Linked DNA regions of Homo sapiens. The protein of the gene in region 1 interacts with the protein of each later gene in a pairwise test. Each region holds a gene or a part of one and is shown in the gene's direction. Other genes may lie near its edges.

Region 1 (7,028 bases):
TGAAAACAAAACTGTATATTCCAAACAGCACATCTGTGGCTGTATGTGGCCCACAGGCTGTTTGCCACCTCTGCTATACATTTGCTCAACTACTTAAATATTGCTAGTTGATCAGAAGGAACATATTTTATTTATTTCTGTCATACTTTAGGCTACTCCTAGAGTTCCCTGAAATTTTAGCTAGTTCTATAAGTGCTTTAAGAATTCTGCAAGATGATATTCTTTTATACACTCTTTTTGATATTGGTTGGTTGGAAGATATGTTTGCTAAGATTTTTAGCTGGTGGTCTTTTTTTTTTTTGAGTCACAGTCTTGCTCTGTCACCCAGGCTGGAGTGCAATGGCACGATCTCGGCTCACGACCACCTCTGCCTCCCCGGTTCAAGCGATTCTCCTGCCTCAGCCTCCTGAGTAGCTGGGATTACAGGCACTCGCCACCACACCTGGCTAATTTTTGTATTTTTAGTAGAGACGGGGTTTCACCATGTTGTCTTGAACAGGCTGGTCTCGAACTCCTGACCTCAGGTGATCTGCCCACCTTGGCCTCCCAAAATGCTGGGATTACAGGCGTGAGCCACCACACCTGGACAGCTCGTGGTGTTTTTGTCTGTGCATGATTATCATTAAGAGTGTTTAAGTGTAAGTGTGCCTGAGGGAAGGGGTCTGGACTAGGTGACATTTGATGTCCATTTCAGCCATGTGACTTTTAGATTTAGCCGTGGATGCAATGCTGTTAATGTTCACGGGCCAAAGGGATAGCAGTTGGAACTGTGCCAAGCAAAATAAAGCCAAATCTATAAAGCCATTCTCAGTGGAAGAGCACCGTGTTAACATGAATTAACAGGCAGGGGAAGTCTGCTAAATGAGGCCAAAGGAAAGAAGTCCCAAAGATGGGTTTGGAGAAGTAGAAGAAAGGGTCAGATTATGTTGTCATTTACATGTTATCTTGCTGAAGTCTGATTTTCAAGTGAGTTTTTTTTTCTGTTTTTTTGCTGTTGATTCAGATTTGAAGACCTTGCTTCTCATCACCCACTGGATTATGCCCCAGGCTTCCCTACCCAATGATCCTCTTGCAACACGCCGTGCTTCCTCCACCTAAGCAGCCCTCACCCTCGCCTCCTATGTCAGTGGCCACCAGGTCTACAGGAACCTTGCAGCTTCCACCACAGAAGCCTTTTGGGCAGGAGGCTTCCTTGCCTCTTGCAGGGGAAGAAGAGTTATCGAAGGGAGGGGAGCAAGACTGTGCCCTGGAGGAGCTATGTAAGCCCCTGTACTGCAAACTCTGCAATGTCACCTTGAACTCTGCACAGCAAGCCCAGGCTCATTATCAGGTAAAGGGAGAAAAGAAAACCAGGCATTGAGTAGGGTGAACATTTCAGGGCTCTGGCTATTTAGCAGTTGTCTCTCCAGATATGACTGTGCCTGGAATACCAAGATGGCTTAGAGAACAACTAACTATGAATTTGTTTGATTAAAAGCCTTATGTTTTTACTTTAAAAATAAGTATCACTTTTTGTAGACTGGATCTCAACCTGTTACACTAAGCTGTGTGGCATGCGATAGCTTACCAGTCTTTGTAGGCAAATGTAAATGATCTATGCTGGCATCTGAACCTGTAGTCTTAAGAAGAACAAGTATTTAAACCACTATTTACCAGCCTGGGTGACAGAGCGAGACTTTGTCTCAGACAAACAAAAAAACCCATGATGTACCGAACTCAATTCAGTGTAAAATTGTTTAGAAGCTAATATAATTTGCATCATTTCGAGGTGACCTCTGTGCATGACTCTTATGCTTTCCATTTTTGACTTCTAACTCTTATATATCCTATCACTGGTAAGGAAAACACAGGTATCTTTTTGTGGTGAGAATAAAATGACATTGCAATATTGAGCCCTATCCTTCATTCATAATAAACATACTCTGATTTATTTTAGCCCATTAGCGTAAACTAATACTGGTTTTTAAGATTTAAAGCTTTCACCTCCATGTTGAATAGCTAGTGGAAAGGACCATTTTAAAGGGTAATATTACCTAAGAACAAATGGAAAATTAAACTTTGGTTAGCAAGAGACGGTACAATATTTCTTTTTATTCTAGACATTTGTCTGTATAAAGTTAAATAATTTCCTTTTTTGGAGAAAAGAGACCTGGGAGATAATCAAGGACAAAACCCAGTGAATGATGTCTTCCCGGGTCATCACTGATTTGATTATTTATTATCTGCTTGAAAATCTCTAGTAATAAGAGAGTATGGTAGAAGACTGTTACACAGGTGTTTCTTCTGTTGTGCACTATAACTTTCTCCACTTTGTTTACTGTGGGTGTTAAGTCTTTTCTGTTTTGTTTTGATCCCAAAGACTGATTATTGTGTTGCTTTTTGATTGTATGTCGGAAGTATTTTGATGGTCAATTGTTTTCTCTGGTATTTAGGGGAAGACATAATATGTTGCCTCCTTTAAGTTCCCATTATGTGGTTTTGTTTTGCCCTCAGGTGCAGAGAGTTGAGTTAATTATATCTCGCAGCTCTTGACATGTGTCATCATTGGTTCCTAAAGGCCTCTTCTGGTTTTATTTTTACGTTTTCCCCCTTTCCCCAGTACGTACTCTCATCACCTTGCTGTCCAGTACAGTTGTTTGATACAGGGTCTTCCTTTGCCTGTCTTTACCATTCAAGCAGAGTCTGTTAGCATGATTAATCTCAACTCCAAGACTGTATTAGCTTTCTTCATTTATTCCTACGGAATGTTCAGTTTTATAGCCTAAGACTCACTTTGAAAAAAGAAGCCAGGGTTCTAAAGGTTTAATTATTAGCCATATAAAGCCCCTAACAAATCATTAACTTGGGGGCAAACCCACTTGTATGCTATACACATATATAATTATCTTTATTTATTTATTTTTTTTTGAGACAGAGTCTCGCTCTGTTGCCCAGGCTGGAGTGCAGTGGCGCGATCTTGGCTCACTGCAGCCCCTGTCTCCGGGGTTCAAGCGATTCTCATGCCTCACCCTCTCGAGTAGCTGGGATTACAGGCACACACCAGCACACCCAGCTAATTTTTGTATTTTTGGTAGAGATGGAGGTTTGCCATGTTGGCTAGATTCAGCCTCCCAAAGCGCTGGGATTACAGGCGTGAGTGACCTACCGCACCCAGCCTATAATTCCCTTTTAAGGAAGAGTTGTTTACTTTTATGAGGGAAAACTCTCGGGCAGTGTGTAATTTTAACATGTCCATGGATTATACATATACCTTATTTCTTTTTTTCTCCTAATAAAACTTTTTGACTTCATGGACTTTGAAAGGTGCTACTGATGATACATAGAGAAGATTCAGTTTGATGCAAGGTCTTTGGATTATAAGGCTAAAACTAGATAAGCAGAATCAACATTTGTTTTTTTCTTTTATTTTACATTTTTGCGTATGTTCTAAACTATGTAGTTGACAAGATTAGTAATTATACTTAATTTCAGTTTCCTCAGTGATACAGTGAATAAATAAATTAGAAAATATAAGAAAAGGGAAATACAATTTAGGTAAATTTCTCAAAAATCAGAATTTTTAAGTGGAAAGGTTGAAGGAGAACAGGATGTAATGGGACAATTTAAGCAGCTAAAAACCAGGGTAAAGATGGGAAAGAAAAGAGGCAAGCAAGTAATCAGAAAGTAGGAGCTTACAGAAAATGAAAAGTTTGGGTATAATAAAGTATATTGCTAAGACTTCAGAAGCAAAGATTCGAATGAGACTGATGTTATTGGTAACTCTTAAAGAGAGAAGGTTTTAACAGACAACTAAGGCAAAGCAGTTCATGTGTAAAAATACAGAGCAATTATGTTAGGGTAACATAGAAGAAAGGTAATCTTAGAAGTGAAATCTGGATTTCAATAAGATAGAAATGGTCAAGATGAGAGTGGATAGTGCAAAGTGTAGATCAGAATAATAAACAGAGTGTGAACATAACTCTAGAAGTGGGTGAGCTACCAAAGAAGGAAAGCGTAGAAATGTTAGCCAAAAAGATGCATCAGAGGGTGTACATGAATAAGCAGTAATAAAAGAAAGATTACTGAAGACAAGGCTAAGACCAGGCCAGGTGTGGTGCCTCACACCTGTAATTCTAGCACTTTGGGAGGCTGAGGCGGGAAGATAGTTTGCGTTCAGGAGTTCAAGACCAGCATGGACAGCATAACAAGACCCTGTCTCTACAAAAATACAAGGAAATTAGCTGGGCATAGTGGCAGACACTTGTAGTCCCAGCTACTCGTGAGGCTGAGACAGGAGGCTCACTTGAGCCTGGGAGATTGAGGCAGCAGTGAGCTATAATCATGCCACTGCACTCCAGCAAACAAAGACAACAACAAAAAACACACAAAAAAGAGAAGGATAAGACCAATGAGTAAGGCTTACCAAGCACAGGAATAAGTAGAATGCCAATGATTGTAGACTAATAAAGTGGTTTAGGATTAAATGAGATGATGGATGTAAAATTTTATTTCAAGACTAAAAACTTACTAATTTTTAATACAGAGCATTACCAAGCTGTACCTTCATTATTTCAGTTATGTGTGAGATAAAATGGGTCACGGGTAGCCTGTTTATGAGCTAGAAACACATTTGTGTGAAGTGATAAATCACTGTGATTACATTACTCAAAACTTTTTAGTCAGTTGATGCCATTGTTGAAATCGTGGAGTTTCAAATTGCCTCGGGTATTGTAAACAATGGTGGTTACACTAGAGCCGGACTGTATCATGTGCCAGTAATCCAGGACACGCAGTGGAAACTGCCCAATAAATACTTCCCTTTAAGCTCACTAGCATTTTTTCCTGACATCCCAGTGTTCCCAAGCTGGGGCTACCTTAGCAGTGACCCATGTGTATCTGTAGTCATCACAGATTTAGTTTTATTCCAAGGACTTTTAAAAACTGGTCAGTTGGCTTCAAAACATCATTAGCTATTGTTTTATTTTTAATGAAGCCATCAAATATTATATTCTTAAAATTAGGGCTTTGGATATAACTTAATTTAAAATCCAATCTTTGGAGGAGAAACATATTTTCATTTTATTAAAGTCTATCTGCAGGCTTCAGGTTACTTAGGGCAAGGCTGGCATGGGGTAACATACCACTGTTTCATCAGCATAAATGCCCAGAGGAAGAATTGCTTTAGCAGGGAAGGTTATTAACAGAAATAAAGAAAAGCAAAAAGCACGGATGAATTTTGCTAAGGCATCCACAGTTTAAAGTCACCAGTTTATTTGCTAATTTGCATGTATATATTTAAAAAGATCTACTTACTCAAAGTACATTTATAAAATTTGTCATAAACATGGCTTTCTATTTGTAATAGTTAGTGGCCAGATAGCAACCTACCATGAATTAGATTGATTAGAGAAAGAGAACACAGGTGAAAGAATAGTTTTAGAATTAGGATGCTGAGTGTAGTGGTCTTAATTCATAATTCATAATGAAGAGAATGCTATTAGATTTTTCCCAAAATTTAAAGCACTGATTTTGGCACTTACATTTTAATATTGATCACCCAGGTTTGGATCACTGAATTAAATCTCAGCTAATTTTCATGTATTCAAAATTCTCCTATCTGATTTTTTTCCAAATGGACTTGCAGTGGACTGAGAATGGCCAAAACACACTTCAGATTTGGTTTTAATGCATGTGCTTTACACGTGGCATATATGCTTTGGAATCTAACAACTTTGGGCTAGGATCTTGGCTCAGTTACTTTAGGCAAGACACTGAATCTCTCTTTATTCAATATCTGTAAAGTAGGGGTCATTGTACTTCCTCTGCAGGATTGTGAGACTTGCATATGTTATCTTAATAAATGCTGGTTGATTGAAATAGGTTGCTATTGTTTAGAAGTGTTTGGGTCTCAAATGAGCAGAATGAGATGGCACACAGCTGTCTTACTGTTGTTACTACCTTGATAGTAACTTGCTGTAGGACCTTGTGTAAATAAGCAAAACTTTGTTTTCCTTGATTGTTCTCCCGAGATAGTCTTTTAGATCCAGATACCAGGTTACCTTAAAAGATTCTCATGAAGAATAATTCAACCAACAAATGAGGCAAAATAAAATGATTTTCAAATGTAAATATGCTTTCAACCATACTACTCGTCTGTCAGCTTAGTCCATTTACCCAATAATCAATCCTTGTTGGTTTTCTTGTTCTGCTCTCTGAAATCGCCAGCTCTGTAGGCTTTTCTAGCTCTTGCTTTGATCACTTTAGAGGACAGAAGCTCTCTGTGATCCTGCCAGTTTTTTGCCTCCTCCTCTAGTCTACCCCTACCTCATTTCTTCTTATTTCGAAATGATAGATACCCTTTCTTTTGTCCAAGTTTGATTCCTCATCCTGTTTTCTGGATTTCATCACCTTTTCACCTCAATCAAAAACTATGCCCAAGTCTTTTCTATATAAATAAAAATAGCAGCAGCAACCTTCTGTTTACTTTTAATCCCTTCTATTAGCAACCTTTCTCCTCTCCTCTCCTGTCCTTAGCATTCTGCAGGTAGAATTGTTCTCTTCAGGTCTTTATTTCCCATTCATTCCTCAGCCCACTGTACTCTGATTTCCATTCCTATAGGCCGCTGAAATGGTCCTTTCCATTGTCACCATGATCTTACAGGCCAAATCTAACTCCTTCTCACTTGACCCCTTTGTAGCATTAGCCAATGGTAACAACTTTCTCCTAAAAAAATTTAAAAATATTTTTATTTAAAATAATGCCTGAGGAACCAAAGGATTTATAATGAAAAGTAGTAATCACCTGTTCTCCACCCATTCCCTACCTTTTTTTTCCTCTCCATTCTCTTCTCCTTTCTGACTCCCAACTTGAGCTGGCTATAGTTTTACTTTGACACTGTCAAGATTGATCACATTTTTATCCATTCTGTCATCAAATTAAGTTTTCCATGCTCTATTTGCAGGTTGATGCCAATTGTTGAAAATTAACATTGAGTTTTTGCATTATTGTGAATAGGGAATTTTGCACTATTATGAGTGGGGAAATATTG
Region 2 (7,028 bases), on another chromosome or scaffold:
AGCAAGACCCCATTTCAAAAACTGAAAAAAAGGGTGGTTATGTTTTCAAACAAGAGCCCACAAACACATTGCAGCATCAAAACAAACATTGTCTTAATTTGTGTGAAGTACTGCTGTGTGTTTAAATCAAGTTTGCAAAATATCTTTCATGAGAAGTAATTGGAAGAGAATTTTGAGGCTGGACGTGGTGGGTCATGCCTGTAATCCCAGCACTTTGGGAGACTGAGGCAGGTGGATCACTTGAGGTCAGGAGTTCGAGACCAGCCTGGCCAACATGGTGAAACCCTGTCTCTACTAAAAGTACAGAAATTAGCCGGGCATGGTGGCAGGTGCCTGTAATCCCAGCTACTCGGGAGACTGAGGCAGGAGAATTTCTTGAACCCAGGAGGTGGAGGTTGCATTGAGCCAAGATCACACCACTGCACTCTAACCTGGGGACAGAGTGAGACTGTGTCTCTTAAAAAAAAAAAAAAATTTCAGTGCATACACACACAATCTCTTTTTTTTGTTGTTGTTTATAAAAAACAACAAAAAAGGATAAGAAGGGGATGACAGGATGAATTATCAAGATAAGACCAGGCCTCTTAAACCATGACCATAGAAAGTGTTCAAGGTTCAAGTGACATATTACAGTCAATGTCAGGTTTCATGAATTTGAGAGCTCACACTTTTCATTTCTAGGAATTTACAGTACTGCTGACACTTGGAAATCAGCAATGGGGAGCTGAGTGAACTGGTATTAAAAAGGTCAAACACACAGCTGCTGCTAAAGCTTTGGAGGGAACAAAATTTCCTAAGCCCATAGTCAGCCCTTTTGGTAGCGAAGGAAGGAATCCAGGTCTTATGCATGGGCCAAACAGGTACCTTTCAAAAGTGTGTCTAGAGGTACCATGTAGTATGTATATGAATGGTTTCTTAACTTGTTGATTTTGAAAGCACAGATTCTACACTACCAGTGACAAATGCTTATTTTTTAGGAATCCTTAACCTCATTGTAAAGCAGTGGTTTCCAATCTATGATGCCTTAACGCCTGACAATCTGGAAAGGCGGTCATAGGAAGGATGGCGGGTGACCAGATAATTTCAAAGATTTCCGAAGTTTAATGAAAATATATTTTTGATAAGAGTGTATAGATTAGCAAGAATATAAGTTTAATTTAGAGTCACATCAAGTCAGTGTGGTAATATTGATTGTAATTTTGTTGGTCAGAAGTGCTTATTGCCAGTTGTATGTCTCTTAGTTATTAAAAAGAATGAGAAAAATGTAAATATTACTTAAATACAAGCCAGCAGGTAGTATCTCCTCAGACAAGGAGCCCATTCAGGGAGCATACTAATCAAGAAGGCATGGCTGGTGAAGGGTTGGGGATCAGTGACCTGGAGGCTGTGTCATTAATGGCTGTTTTAGCAGAGACCCCCTCACATGCATGAAGTCATCCCAGGTCTTCGTATGTAGGAAGGAATCTGGGAAGTTACCAGTCACATCTTTCTTGTTACTTTTGATTTCTTTGCAGTATACTTTCTTCATGTTTATTCTCTATTGCAGACAAATTCTGTGGATCAGAGCTGCTCTTAAAATGATTCAGACTGTACTTAAAATGCAATTATATGAATTTTGTAAAAAATATAATTCTAATGCAAGGAAGAGAGAGATCTGTAATTCATGTGGCCCTCTGTGCAAACCCCAAAGATATTCTTATAGATTTGATTCATGCATTAAATTTAGTTGAACCAGTTATAGTACAGAATCAGGTCTTTTTTATTTCTCTCTATATACATCCTAAAGAGGCATTTTAAAGTGGATTTTTATGTGCATTTAGATTTTGCCATTTCTAGTGTTCTGTTTTTGATATGAAAGTGTTGTTTTTAAATATTGTGCACTGACACTAATCTTTCCAGGCTGGTTTTCTTTTTAAATGGTTTTTAAAGGTTTATGGATTGGATGAACTGAAAGAAAAAAAAATTGGAAAATGAATAGCATGTATTTTCTGAAGTTGATAATTTTGAGATAACTTGTTGTGTATGAAAATGGAACTCATTTTCGTAGCAAGTATGACCACAGGTCAAATTCATTAGAAATGTCAAGAATGGAAATACCTGAATATTTTGTGGGCCTTGTGTGACTTCTGTGAAGAGAATTGGGTTGCCACCTCCTCACTGATTTTTCACCTTTAAGTTGCACATCATGTTGTATTGTAACTCTTTGAGTGTGCTTTGTGTTTTTTGAACTCCTCTGGGGCAGGAATTGTGTTTCTTTTTTTTTTTTAAGACAGAGTTTTGCTCTTGTTTCCTCATCTGGAGTACAGTGACGCAATCTCGACTCACTGCAACCTCTGCTTCCTGGGTTCAGGCGATTCTCCTGCCTCAGCCTCCTGAGTAGATGGGATTACAGGCATGCGCCACCATGCCTGGCTAATTTTTTGTATTTTTAGTAGAAACGGGGTTTCACCGTGTTAGCCAGGCTGGTCTCGAACTCCTGACCTCAGGTGATCCACCCGCCTCGGCCTTCCAAAGTGCTGGGATTACAGGTGTGAGCCACCCTCACTGCAAGGTCCGCCTCCCAGGTTCACACCATTCTTCTGCCTCAGCCTCCTGAGTAGCTGGGACTGCAGGCACCCGCCACCATGCCTGGCTAATTTTTTGTATTTTTTAGTAGAGATAGGGTTTCACCATGTTAGCCAAGATGGTCTCGATACCCTGACCTTGTGATCCTCCTGCCTTGGCCTCCCAAAGTGCTGGGATTACAGGCGTGAGCCACCACGCCTGGCCAGGAATTGTGTTTCTTAAGCTTAGCACAGTGCTTTGCATCCAGTTAGTAATGTAATAAATGCATCGTTCAATACTGTGTACGGACATACTTCTGAGTGCAAGCCAATAATCCTGTAAATCAGTACAACCAAGGTTATATTGATTAAGTATTCTCAAACAGTAAAACAATTTGGACATTTACATGGGATTTTTTAATCGTGAAATTTGATGTGTTTTGGAACTTATTTCTGACAGCTGTACCATATAGCTTTCACTGATAATGTCTTGGGTTAAATTGTGGCTCCTCTGGTAACCCTCAGAGTAGATTTTGTGCTGTCGACTGTGTATAAATATCTAGAAATCACAGCATATTCTTGGATTTCCTTGTCTGATGCCTAGCAGTGAGCCACCCAGGTCCTTTTATGTAAAGTATCATGAATCCAATTAGCAGAAAGCATGCTATTACATTTTATTTTAGTGAGTATCATTCTCATACCAGAAAAAAACAGTTCTTTGTCGATTCTTTCTTGCAGAAAGCATAACCCCTACTGTAGAACTAAATGCACTGTGCATGAAACTTGGAAAAAAACCAATGTATAAGCCTGTTGACCCTTACTCTCGGATGCAGTCCACCTATAACTACAACATGAGAGGAGGTGCTTATCCCCCGAGGTATGTGTTTTTTTTTTTTTTTTTTTGTAAAATACAGGAGAAAACGTGTCTGATCTTTTACATAAACCAGTACCTCTAGATTGTGGAGGGAGTAATGATTTGGTTTGGGCCTGCCAAGTGTTGAAGTTGGTCTTAATTACTCTTGTGCCTTTGTGCCCCTCCCCCGCCTTTTCTTTTTTTTCTTTCTTTCTTTTTTTTTTTTTTTTTTTTTTTTTTTTTTTTGAGACAGAGTCTTGCTCTGTCACCCAGGCTGGAGTGCAGTGGTGCAGTCTCGGCTCACTGTATCCTCTGCCTCCTGGGTTCAAGTGAGGAGGCTGTCTCAGCCTCCCGAATAGCTGGGATTACAGGCACCTGCCACCACGCCTGGCTGATTTTTTTTTGTATTTTTTAGTAGAGACGGGGTTTTGCCATGTTGGCTGGGGTGGTCTTGAACTCCGGACCTCAGATGATCTGCCCACCTTGGCCTCCCAAAGTGCTGGGATTACAGGCGTGAGCCACCACACCTGGCTGCGCCTCTTTTTTTTTTTTTTAATTCATTGAGACAGGGTCTCCGTATGTTGCCCAGACTGGTCTTGAACTTCTGGGCTCAAGGAGTCCTCCTGTCTTGGCCTCCCGCAGTGCTAGGATTAAAGTGTGAGCCACCACACCCGGCCCTTTGTGCTTCTTTTTTTTTTTTTTTTTCTGAGACGGAGTCTCGCTCTGTTGCCCAGGCTGGAGTGCAGTGGCATGATCTCGGCTCACTGCAAGCTCTGCCTCCCGGGTTCATGCTATTCTCCTGCCTCAGCCTCCCAAGTAGCTGGGACTACAGGCGCCTGCCACCACACCCGGCTAATTTTTTGTATTTTTAGTAGAGACGGGGTTTCACCTTGTTAGCCAGGATAGTCTCAATCTCCTGACCTCATGATCCGCCCACCTCGGCCTCCCAAAGTGCTGGGATTACAGGCATGAGCCACCACGCCCGGCTCCTTTGTGCTTCTTTAACTACTGCTCTTGGGTAGGGCCTGAGCATATTTCTTGCTGGCAGTGTGGCTTGTGCCCTCAAGCAGCCTGGCTAAAGATAACCCTTGTAACTGCTTTGTGTAACTGAATCATATTTAAACATGATTCCCATAGCATCATGATTCCTGCAAGACAATGATTCCCAGCATTTGTAGATTACCTGATTATTGGGTACTTTTTGACTTTTGAACTTGTGCGTTTTGTAAATAGCTTTGGTGCAATAAAATATTAATTGAAACCTGAAAATGCCATGGATTAAAAATCTTCTGCTGGCAGTAATAAGACATTAGTGGAGGCCAGGTGTGGTGGCTCACGCCTGTAATCCCAGCTCTTTGGGAGGCCAAGGCAGGCGGATCATGAGGTCAGGAGTTTGAGACCAGCCTGGCCAACATGGTGAAACCCTGTCTCTACTAAAAATACTAAAAATACAGGCATGGTGGCAGGTGCCTGTAATCCCAGCTACTCGGGAGGCTGAGGCAGGAGAATCGCTTGAACCCAGGAAGCGGAGGTTGCAGTGAGCCGAGATCGCACCACTGCACTCCAGCCTGGGCAACAAGAGAAACTCCATCTCACAAAAAAAAAAAAAAAAAAAAGACATTAGTGGATAGATGATGAGCAAAATGGAATTCTTCATTTCCCTGCTCTCTGTTGGGGGATAGTCATTTTAAAAATATAAGCTATGAAATGGATAAGAAACTGGGTTCTGCTAGGGAAATGGATAAGAAACTGGGTTCTGCTAGGTAGGCTACAGCTTATTGGGATTTCTTGAAATGAGGGTCCTTTTGAAAGACTTGTGCATTAAAATTCCCAGCCTCCTATTGGAGACATGCAAATTTAAAGCTAAGGTTTGAGAAGGCAGAGCAAGCCAAGTTTTTGTCTCAGCCAAAGCCTAATTCATTTTAGATTTTGTCAGTGCAGGTTAGTGTGATAAACTCATAATTTATAAGCCATTGTATTTTGTGAGATGTAAGTTTGGATTGCTAAACACTCTTTGCTTATACTGTGTAGCAATTCTAATCCAGTTTAAGCTTTTATGAAATCTCTGGATATATTGATGAAGAGTGATTAGCATCAAACACTAATGTGAGTAGGATCGTGATGAAGGAAATACTTGCATTTGCCAGAGAGTGTATAGGTGACTTATCAACTTGAGACTGTAATTTGCCTAACCTCCTTTTATTTCTAGGTACTTTTACCCATTTCCAGTTCCACCTTTACTTTATCAAGTGGAACTTTCTGTGGGAGGACAGCAATTTAATGGCAAAGGAAAGACAAGACAGGCTGCGAAACACGATGCTGCTGCCAAAGCGTTGAGGATCCTGCAGAATGAGCCCCTGCCAGAGAGGCTGGAGGTGAGGAGTTGAGCCCAGGCTCCCTGACGCTTCGACAGGGTAGGAGGGTAGTGGGGAGATGTCACCGCACATTATCTTTTCTAAGAAGGCACATTGACAGCTGTCCATAATTTTTATTTGAATGCCTCCAAGATTTTATGCTCTGTAGCTTTCTTGCTTTTTACTCCTTTTTTCCTTTTAAAATTTCTTAACAAGAAAGTCAGTTGCCTTCTTTTTCAGTCTGTAGCATGGTTTTGAGTGACATGATACGGTGTGAACACGTTAGAAAGTTTGTGATTCAGTTGAGTTGTGAAGAACATGTATGGATGAAGTCTTCGGTGCTCAAGATTATGCTTGCCAGAATCTACTGTGATATATGGGTACCAGGTTAGAGGATTTTCTGAAGCTGTTTTTTACCAGCCACTCTTGATTATATAGAAGCGCCAGTTACCTTTTGCCTCATAACAGACCATCATAGAATTTAGTGATGGTTTAAACATCTCCAGGCATTTATTTTGCTTATGAGTCTGTGATTGAGGCTGGGCTTGGCAAGGGTGTAGCTTGTCTTCGTTCCACACAGCTTTGGTTGAAGTGGATCTGCACGGGGCCGGAGGATCTGCTTTTAAGGTGGCTCACTCACGTGGCTGGTAAGTTGGTGCTTGCTGTCAGCTAGGAGCTCAGCTGGGGGTTCTGGCCCCAGGACCTCAGTTCATCCCTGGGTGACCTATGGAAGGATTGCTTATACTTCTTCATGTTATGGTGGCTGGTTGCCAAGAGTAAGCATCCTAGAAGATGGGAAATGGAAGCAGCTGCCAGTTTCTTAAGGCTTAGGCTCAGAAATCACAGCATCGTGTCTGCCATATTCTACAGGTCAAGCAGTCATGGAGCCCAGATTCAAAGGAAGGAGATATAGAATGTCACTTAGAAAAAAAAAATTGAGGTGGCTGGGCGCAGTGGCTCACGCCTGTAATCCCAGCACTTTGGGAGGCCAAGGCGGGTGGATCATGAGGTCAGGAGATTGAGACCATCCTGGCTAAGATGGTGAAACCCCATCTCTACTAAAAATACAAAAAATTCGCCGGGCGTGGTGGTGGGCGCCTGTAGTCCCAGCTATTCGAGAGGCTGAGGCAGGAGAATGGCATGAACCCGGGAGGCGGAGCTTGCGGTGAGCCGAGATTGTGCCACTGCACTCCAGCCTCAGGGACAGAGCGAGACTCTGTCTCAAAAAAAAAAAAATGGAGGTAAAAATTATATAACCTAAATTGACTATTGTAAGTG
Region 3 (7,028 bases), on another chromosome or scaffold:
ACTACTGAAAGGAAGGAATTCTATAGGCTAGTCCTTACAGAGTGTGATGTGGGAACATAGAAGAAGGCATCCAACAAAAACAGGTTTGGAGACAGATTCCAGGAAGAAGTAATGTCTAAGCCAAGACCTGTAGAATGGGGGAAAAGAATTCCAGAGAGAAGAAAAAGCGTGTGCAAAGGCCAGGAGTGAAACATCGTATGCAGTCTAGGAGCCCTAAGTGATTTGTTGTGTGTAGAACATAGTGTTGGAGGGAGGGAGTCTCAATGAGGCCAGCAAAGTAAAGAGGGATTAAATCTTAAAGGGACCCCTATATAAGGAAAGTGAACTTTATCCCAAGGGTAGTACAAAGTCATTAAAGAATTTTAATCTGGGAAGGACAGGATCTAGTCTATACATTACAAGGAAATCACTTGGCTGCATTATGGTAAGTGAGTGAAATTAGGATCAAAGAGACCTGCGAGAGTGCTGTTACAGAAGACACGTGAGACATGACAGCTTGAACTAAGGTAGTGGCTGGGAAAATGGAGAGAGATGGGTAGATTTTAAAGTTATTTAGAAAACTGAGGTAAAGGGGCATGGTAATTGATTGGATGTGGGAAGCAAGGGAAAGGGAGGAAATTACTATTTTAAACTTGGCAATAGCAAGAGGGGAGCAGATAATGAACTAAATATATTGAATTTGAAGTGCTTATGGAATAGCTTATGGAATAGCTAAGTGAATATATCGAGTAGCTGAACAAATAAATTCAGAGCTTAAGAGATTGGCCTACACATGATATATAACTTCAGATTCTGATATTCACAGATAGGTGTGTCATGTGGTACATTATCTGAGAGTAGTGTATTAGGTGGGAAATAAAAAAGTACAACTGTAGCAACTTCTTCACTGAGCTTATGATAAAATAAGGGCTCATTCTTTAGAAAAAAATCAAAGACTATATACAAATGAGTAATATAATTTGATTTTACATTTTTAATAGAAAAATATAAAACACTGCATTTACTGCTTTTGGAATTTGAGTCAACAGTATCACCAAAATTACAAAGCACAGACAGATTTACAGGTGAAATTGGTTAAATCTTCAAAGAAGAGATCATTTTCAATGCTATTTAAACTCTTTTCAGGCAATGTATAGATAACATAAAGGAAACTTTTAAATTTATTCTCCAAAACCAACATAATACACCAAAACCTGACAATAGCAAGTTCAACAGAAAAAAAAAAATTACAGATCAATATGCCTTATGGTGAAACACCTTTGTAAAATGTTCAGTACAATATTAAAATAATGATATAGCATTGACAAGTAGGGTTTATTTAACTAAGACTATTTCAAGGTTAATAAGTTGGTTACTTTAATTAACCACATTAATGTGTCAAAGAGTAATATATAATCCTCTCAATGGATGCCAAAAAAATTTTGATAAAACTCAGCAATCATTACTGATAAAAACTTGGAAAAAAACCAAAATCATGGTTATATATTTATACATTATACTCATTCCCATTAATATCAGAAATAAGGACGCCCACCAACACCACTTTTATTTAACCTTGTTCTAGAAGTACCCACCAATTAAAAACAAATTAGACAAGAGAAAACAGTACGAAGTTGGAAATAAGAGGAGATAAAATGGTTACTAACTGCAAATGGTATGATTGTATCCCTTTAAAACCCTAAAGAAAAACTACTAGAAACAAGAGAATTCATCAAGGTAACTGATTATGAAATTAATATACAAAATCAATAACTTTTCCATATTGCCCAGAGTTATGTAGGTAACAACCAGAATAATTAAAAATAAAAAGCTAAAAATTATTGTATCTGGGAAGGGGACCTGAAGGTGGAGAAGGGGCAAGGCAGAGGTTGTTGCTTTTATACTTCTGTACTATTTGATTTTTTGCTGTATGTGTGTATCACTTTGACAAAACTTACGAAGCTTCATAACATTGGTCATTTTATAGAAAAATAGAAAATCCTATTCTGAGAAAATATACTAGAAAAAAGTCAGTAGTTTTCTTATTTACAAATAATAACTAGAATATAGAAGATCCCAATTTAAATTGTAGACAGGGATAGGCTATATGAAAATAAACTTAGAAAGAAATGCGTAGGACCACGTGAGGAAAAGTCTACTAAAGAATAGAGCAGAAAACATTGTAAATATATTTAAATGTAATGTGGTCTCACTCAAAACCTACCAGCGTTTGGCCAGGCACAGTGGCTCACGCCTGTAATCCCAGCACTTTGGGAGGCCGAGGTGGGCGGATCATGAGGTCAGGAGATAGAAACCATTCTGGCTAACGCGGTGAAACCCCGTCTCTACTAAAAATACAAAAAAAAAAATTAGCCGGGCCTGGTGGCGTGCGCCTGTAGTCCCCGCTACTCCGGAGGCTGAGTCAGGAGAATGGCATGAACCCGGGAGGCGGAGCTTGCAGTGAGCAGAGATCCACGCCACTGCACTCCAGCCTAGGCGACAGAGTGAGACCCCAACTCGAAAAAAAAAAAAACCTACCAGCGTTCATTTTGGACCTTGATACACGTTTATTGAAGTTTATCTGGAAAAAAACCCTCAAGAATAGCCAAGAAAACTGAAAAGGAAGAGTTGGGAGAGCAAGGGTGTGCTGCTTTACTAGAGAACAAAACATACTGTAAAACTGAACTTGTCAGACAAGTTACTGGGCCAGGAATAGTCAGAGGAGCGAATAGAGAATCCAGGCGTAGATGCTAATCCACATAGGACCATAGTATATAGCAACAGTGAGATTTCAGATCAGTGGGTGAGAGGATGGATTATTCAATAATGATGTAGAAACAGTTTACATCCACATTTGGGTGGGGGCTATATATATATATTTGTTGATGTGTATGACATCTATTTAGAATGCTTCCTTATTCCTTACACCAAAGTGAATTTCAGATGGATCAAAGATTTGAACATAAAAATTTGAAACAGTATAAATATTAGGAAACATGGAAGAGTTTTTCTTTTTAAAAATCTTAGCATGGGGAAAGCATTTTAACTTAAAACCTAGGTTAAAAGATTAATACATTTGACAACATAAAACCTACTGCACAGCAAAAAATCTGTAAATTAAGACAATAAAAAAGTGGGAAGAAATTATTTTCAACATAGAACTATAAAGGAACTGTTTTCAGTACTACCTTTAAAGCTCTTTTGTACACATCTGCTGCACACAGCAGCACATGCCTGTAGTCCCAGCTACTCGGGAGGCTAAGGTGGGAGGACTGCTAGAGCCCAAGAGTTTGAGAGTTAAGCCACACAGCAAGATCCTAACTCTTAAAAAAGAGAAAATTTAAAAAGCTCTTATGCATCAGTTAAAAAGACAACCCAGTAGAAGAAATGCAAACGATTAAGGGAAAAAAAGAAAAAATATTCAACTTTATTCATGCAAGATAAAATATTTTCACCTTTTAGATTGGCAAAAACTACAAAATTTGATAATAGCTGGTATTAGTGAGGGTATGAGAAAACAAGCCCCCTCCAAGACAGTTGGTAGGAGTATAAATTGGTTCAGAAATCAGTTTGGAAGTATTTATCAAAATTAAAAGTGTACATGTTCTTTGACTTAGCAGTTCCACTTCTAGAAATAATTCTACAGAGAAACTCATTCAAGTGCAAAAGAGTGTTTATTGCTAGTAAAAGCAAGAAACTAGAAACAACCTAAAGCTCACAGTTGGAGATCCGTAAGGTAAATACAGTGCATATATGTGCACTGATAAAAGAAAAATGAACAAGATGTAGAGGAGTAAGTTATCATTTGCTTTAAAAGATTGTGTGTGCTTGCATATGCATAGAACATTTATGGGAAGATACTGAAAAATGTTTAACAGTATGTCTAAGAAATAGAACAGAGGTCTTCAGGGAATGGGTGGTAAGGAAAAGAGACTGTACTCTTCATTATATATTTGTTCTTAGTGCATGTATATTTTTAACCATGTAAATAGTGTTCTTTATTTAAAAACAGTATTTTAAAGTTTCTATAATGTAAATTTTTATTTGGTAAATCTAATAAATTACTTAATTCCATATCATGCCATCTCTAAAATCTTTTGGAAATTGCCTCCCCTCTGTCGTGCTCATTAATAAAACAATATTAAGAGTAGTAACCCTACTTACTTCAGAAAGTAGTTGTTTTTATTAATGGCATATGAAAGCAATTTGAGAACCATAAACTAATATGGAAATATAAGGCATTCTAAGGACAGAGATGAAAAGGGAAGGATATAGGGGAGGATAAAGGAAAGAGGAAAAGCAGAAAGAAAAAGGAAAAAAATACTCAGTTGGGTTCTGGGATAGAAGTCTGATAAGAACTTTTTGACATCCTGTCATTTATTTGAATGACTTGTTCCTCAAACCCAACGCGCACATTTCATGTTTTTTTTAGTTTTTTTTTCTGTTTTTTTTCCTGTTTGATAGCTGTCAGTTATAGTGATTGGTATTTAATACAAAAAAAACCAAAGATATGAAAATTGTTCTATATTTTAATCTGCAAATTGCTCCATTAGGCAGATTTAATTATTTGTGGATTTACTTATGGTGCTTCCAGATATCTTGTACCTCTTAATGTGACCATCAGAAAACTTGACTGAGAAACATTTGTACTATACAAAATACAAAATGCTTTCAGTATATTATTGCAAGTGCTTCTTAAAAACATATAGTATTGTTAAATGTGTACTTTTTAATGTTGTCTTGTTTAAATTGGAAAATTAACCAAATGTTATCCATTTAAACATGCTTTATAACATATTAAATGTGAGTGCTTAATAAGTACTTTTAATGATACTGGTACGGGTGTTGGAACCCAGTCCTAGTCAAGAGTCTAAATCTTCATCTCTGTTTTTCAGACAAATGTAGTAGGACATTCTTTAGGATGTACTTGGCATTCCTTGAGGAATTCTCCTGGTGAAAAGATCAACTTACTGAAAAGAAGCCTCCTTAGTATTCCAAATACAGATTACATCCAGCTGCTTAGTGAAATTGCCAAGGAACAAGGTTTTAATATAACATATTTGGATATAGGTATGATTTTTTTTTCTTTGGCTTTCCCAAGACATGTTTATTTAAAAATGTGTTTGAGGAACAAAAATGTGTTTGAGGAATAAAAATTTCTATTACAATTTATTTTATTGATCAGGGATTCTAAGTATATATAATTACTAGGCCAGTAATATATATAATTGATATGTCCCATTCTTGTGGATAGTAATAATAGCTAACATCTATACAGTTATAACAAAAACAACAATAGCAAAGATAGAGTTTTACTGTGTGCCAGACACTGTTCTAAGATTACACGTATCTACTTACTGAATCCTCAGACTAACTCTATGAAGCAAATTCTGTTATCCTTATTTATAAGTAAAGGAAGAAAGGCACAGAAAGGTTGAGAAACTTGCCCAAGATCACATAGCTAGTCAGCGGTAGAGCAAGATTTGGGGAAGAGTCCCAGAAGATACCCTGGCTGTTAAACTAGCCCTGCTGGGCAAATGAAAAGGCACCTACATTTCTAGCACAAGTACAAGTTTGTGGTGCCCAGACCTTTTCTCTCTACTTTGTCACTGTATGCTGATTCTGGGAGGTAAATGGAACCAAGTCAATTTATAGTTTTATCCCATCTCAGCCATCATCATCTGTATTTTCTCTAGCCCTTAATCATTTGGATAGACAAATATGGACAGATGGGAAAGCAAGTCAGTATGGATTTTCTTTTAATTCAATTTATAGAGCTAATTAGTTGTGTGTGTTTGGTGTCTTGATTTTTTTTTTTTTTTTTTTTTTTTGAGACGGAGTATTGTTTCTGTTGCCCAGGCTGGAGTACAGTGGCACAATCTCAACTCACTGCAACCTCTGCCTCCTGGGTTCAAGCGATCCTCCTGCTTCAGTCTCCCAAGAAGCTGGGAATACAGGCATCCACCACCAAGCCTGGCTAATTTTTTTTTTTTTCCCCAAGATGGAGTCTTGATCTGTTGCCCTGGTTGGAGTGCGGTGGCATGATCTCAGCTCACTGTAACCTCTGCCTCCCAGGTTCAAGCAATTCTCCTGCCTCAGCCTCCTGAGTAGCTGGGACTACTGCTGTGTGCCACCACACCCACCTAATTTTTGCATTTTTAGTAGAGACGGGGTTTCACCATGTTGGCCAGGCTGGTCTCAAACTCCTGACCTCATGATCCACCCACCTCGGCCTCCCAAAGTTTTTTTTTTTTTAGTAGAGATGGGAGTTTCACCATGTTGACCAGGCTTGTCTCAAACTCCTGACCTCAAGTGATCTGTACACCTCAGCCTCCCAAAGTGCTGGGATTACAGGTGTGAGCCACCGTGCCTGGCCAAAGTATCTTGATTTAACATGTGTGAGAAATTTTATATCCCTATCCAACCACAGAAAGATGTGGGGACCTTGCTTGTCAGGGTCCCCTGACCCTGGGAAAGTAGGGCACTTAGGGGCTCAAAGAACTCCTGATATTCTGTGCTACTTTGGGATTGAAGGACGGGTGAAGTGCATTGTCTCAGTAAACCAATAATGATGCAGAACCTGGGAAGTCAGTGCAGACAGATGGTTAGAAAAGGTGGCTGATGAAAAATTAGCTGGGTGTGGTGGCACATGCCTGTAGTCCAGTCTACTAGGGAGGCTGAGGTGGGGACAATGACTTGAGCCTCTGAGGTTGAGGCAGCAGTGAGCCATGATCATGCCGCTGCTCTCCAGCCTGGGTGACAGAGTTAGACTTGTCTCAAAAAAAAAAAAGAAAAGAGGCTGGAGGCCAGGTGCGGTGGCTCACACCTGTAATCCCAGCACTTTGGGAGGCCAAGTCGGGCAGATCACCTGAGGTCAGGCGTTTGAGACCAGCCTGACCAACACGGTGAAACCCTGTCTCTACTAAAAATACAAAAATTAGCCAGACAAGGTGGCGTGCACCTGTAATCCCAGCTACTCGGGAGGCTCAGGTGGGAGAATCACTTGAACCCGGGAGGCAGAGGTTGCAGTGAACCGAGATCGCGCCACT

Evidence for each region. Proteins that work in one complex are often made in the same cells at the same time.
Region 2: the proteins of ZMAT3 (region 1) and STAU1 interact in binary tests that used the Homo sapiens proteins (3 or more experiments, as listed by UniProt).
Region 3: the proteins of ZMAT3 (region 1) and PRKRA interact in binary tests that used the Homo sapiens proteins (3 or more experiments, as listed by UniProt).

Annotation. Positions count from the first base shown.
Region 1 is NC_000003.12:179,061,785-179,068,812, reverse strand, and holds part of ZMAT3 (zinc finger matrin-type protein 3), read left to right. Parts: intron 1-1,003; 5' UTR 1,004-1,060; coding exon 1,061-1,330; intron 1,331-7,028. UniProt on the Homo sapiens protein: Acts as a bona fide target gene of p53/TP53. May play a role in the TP53-dependent growth regulatory pathway. May contribute to TP53-mediated apoptosis by regulation of TP53 expression and translocation to the nucleus and nucleolus.
Region 2 is NC_000020.11:49,150,325-49,157,352, reverse strand, and holds part of STAU1 (double-stranded RNA-binding protein Staufen homolog 1), read left to right. Parts: intron 1-3,281; coding exon 3,282-3,420; intron 3,421-5,605; coding exon 5,606-5,771; intron 5,772-7,028. UniProt on the Homo sapiens protein: Binds double-stranded RNA (regardless of the sequence) and tubulin.
Region 3 is NC_000002.12:178,434,166-178,441,193, reverse strand, and holds part of PRKRA (interferon-inducible double-stranded RNA-dependent protein kinase activator A), read left to right. Parts: intron 1-950; exon of another isoform or gene 951-2,327; intron 2,328-4,874; coding exon 4,875-5,049; intron 5,050-7,028. UniProt on the Homo sapiens protein: Activates EIF2AK2/PKR in the absence of double-stranded RNA (dsRNA), leading to phosphorylation of EIF2S1/EFI2-alpha and inhibition of translation and induction of apoptosis.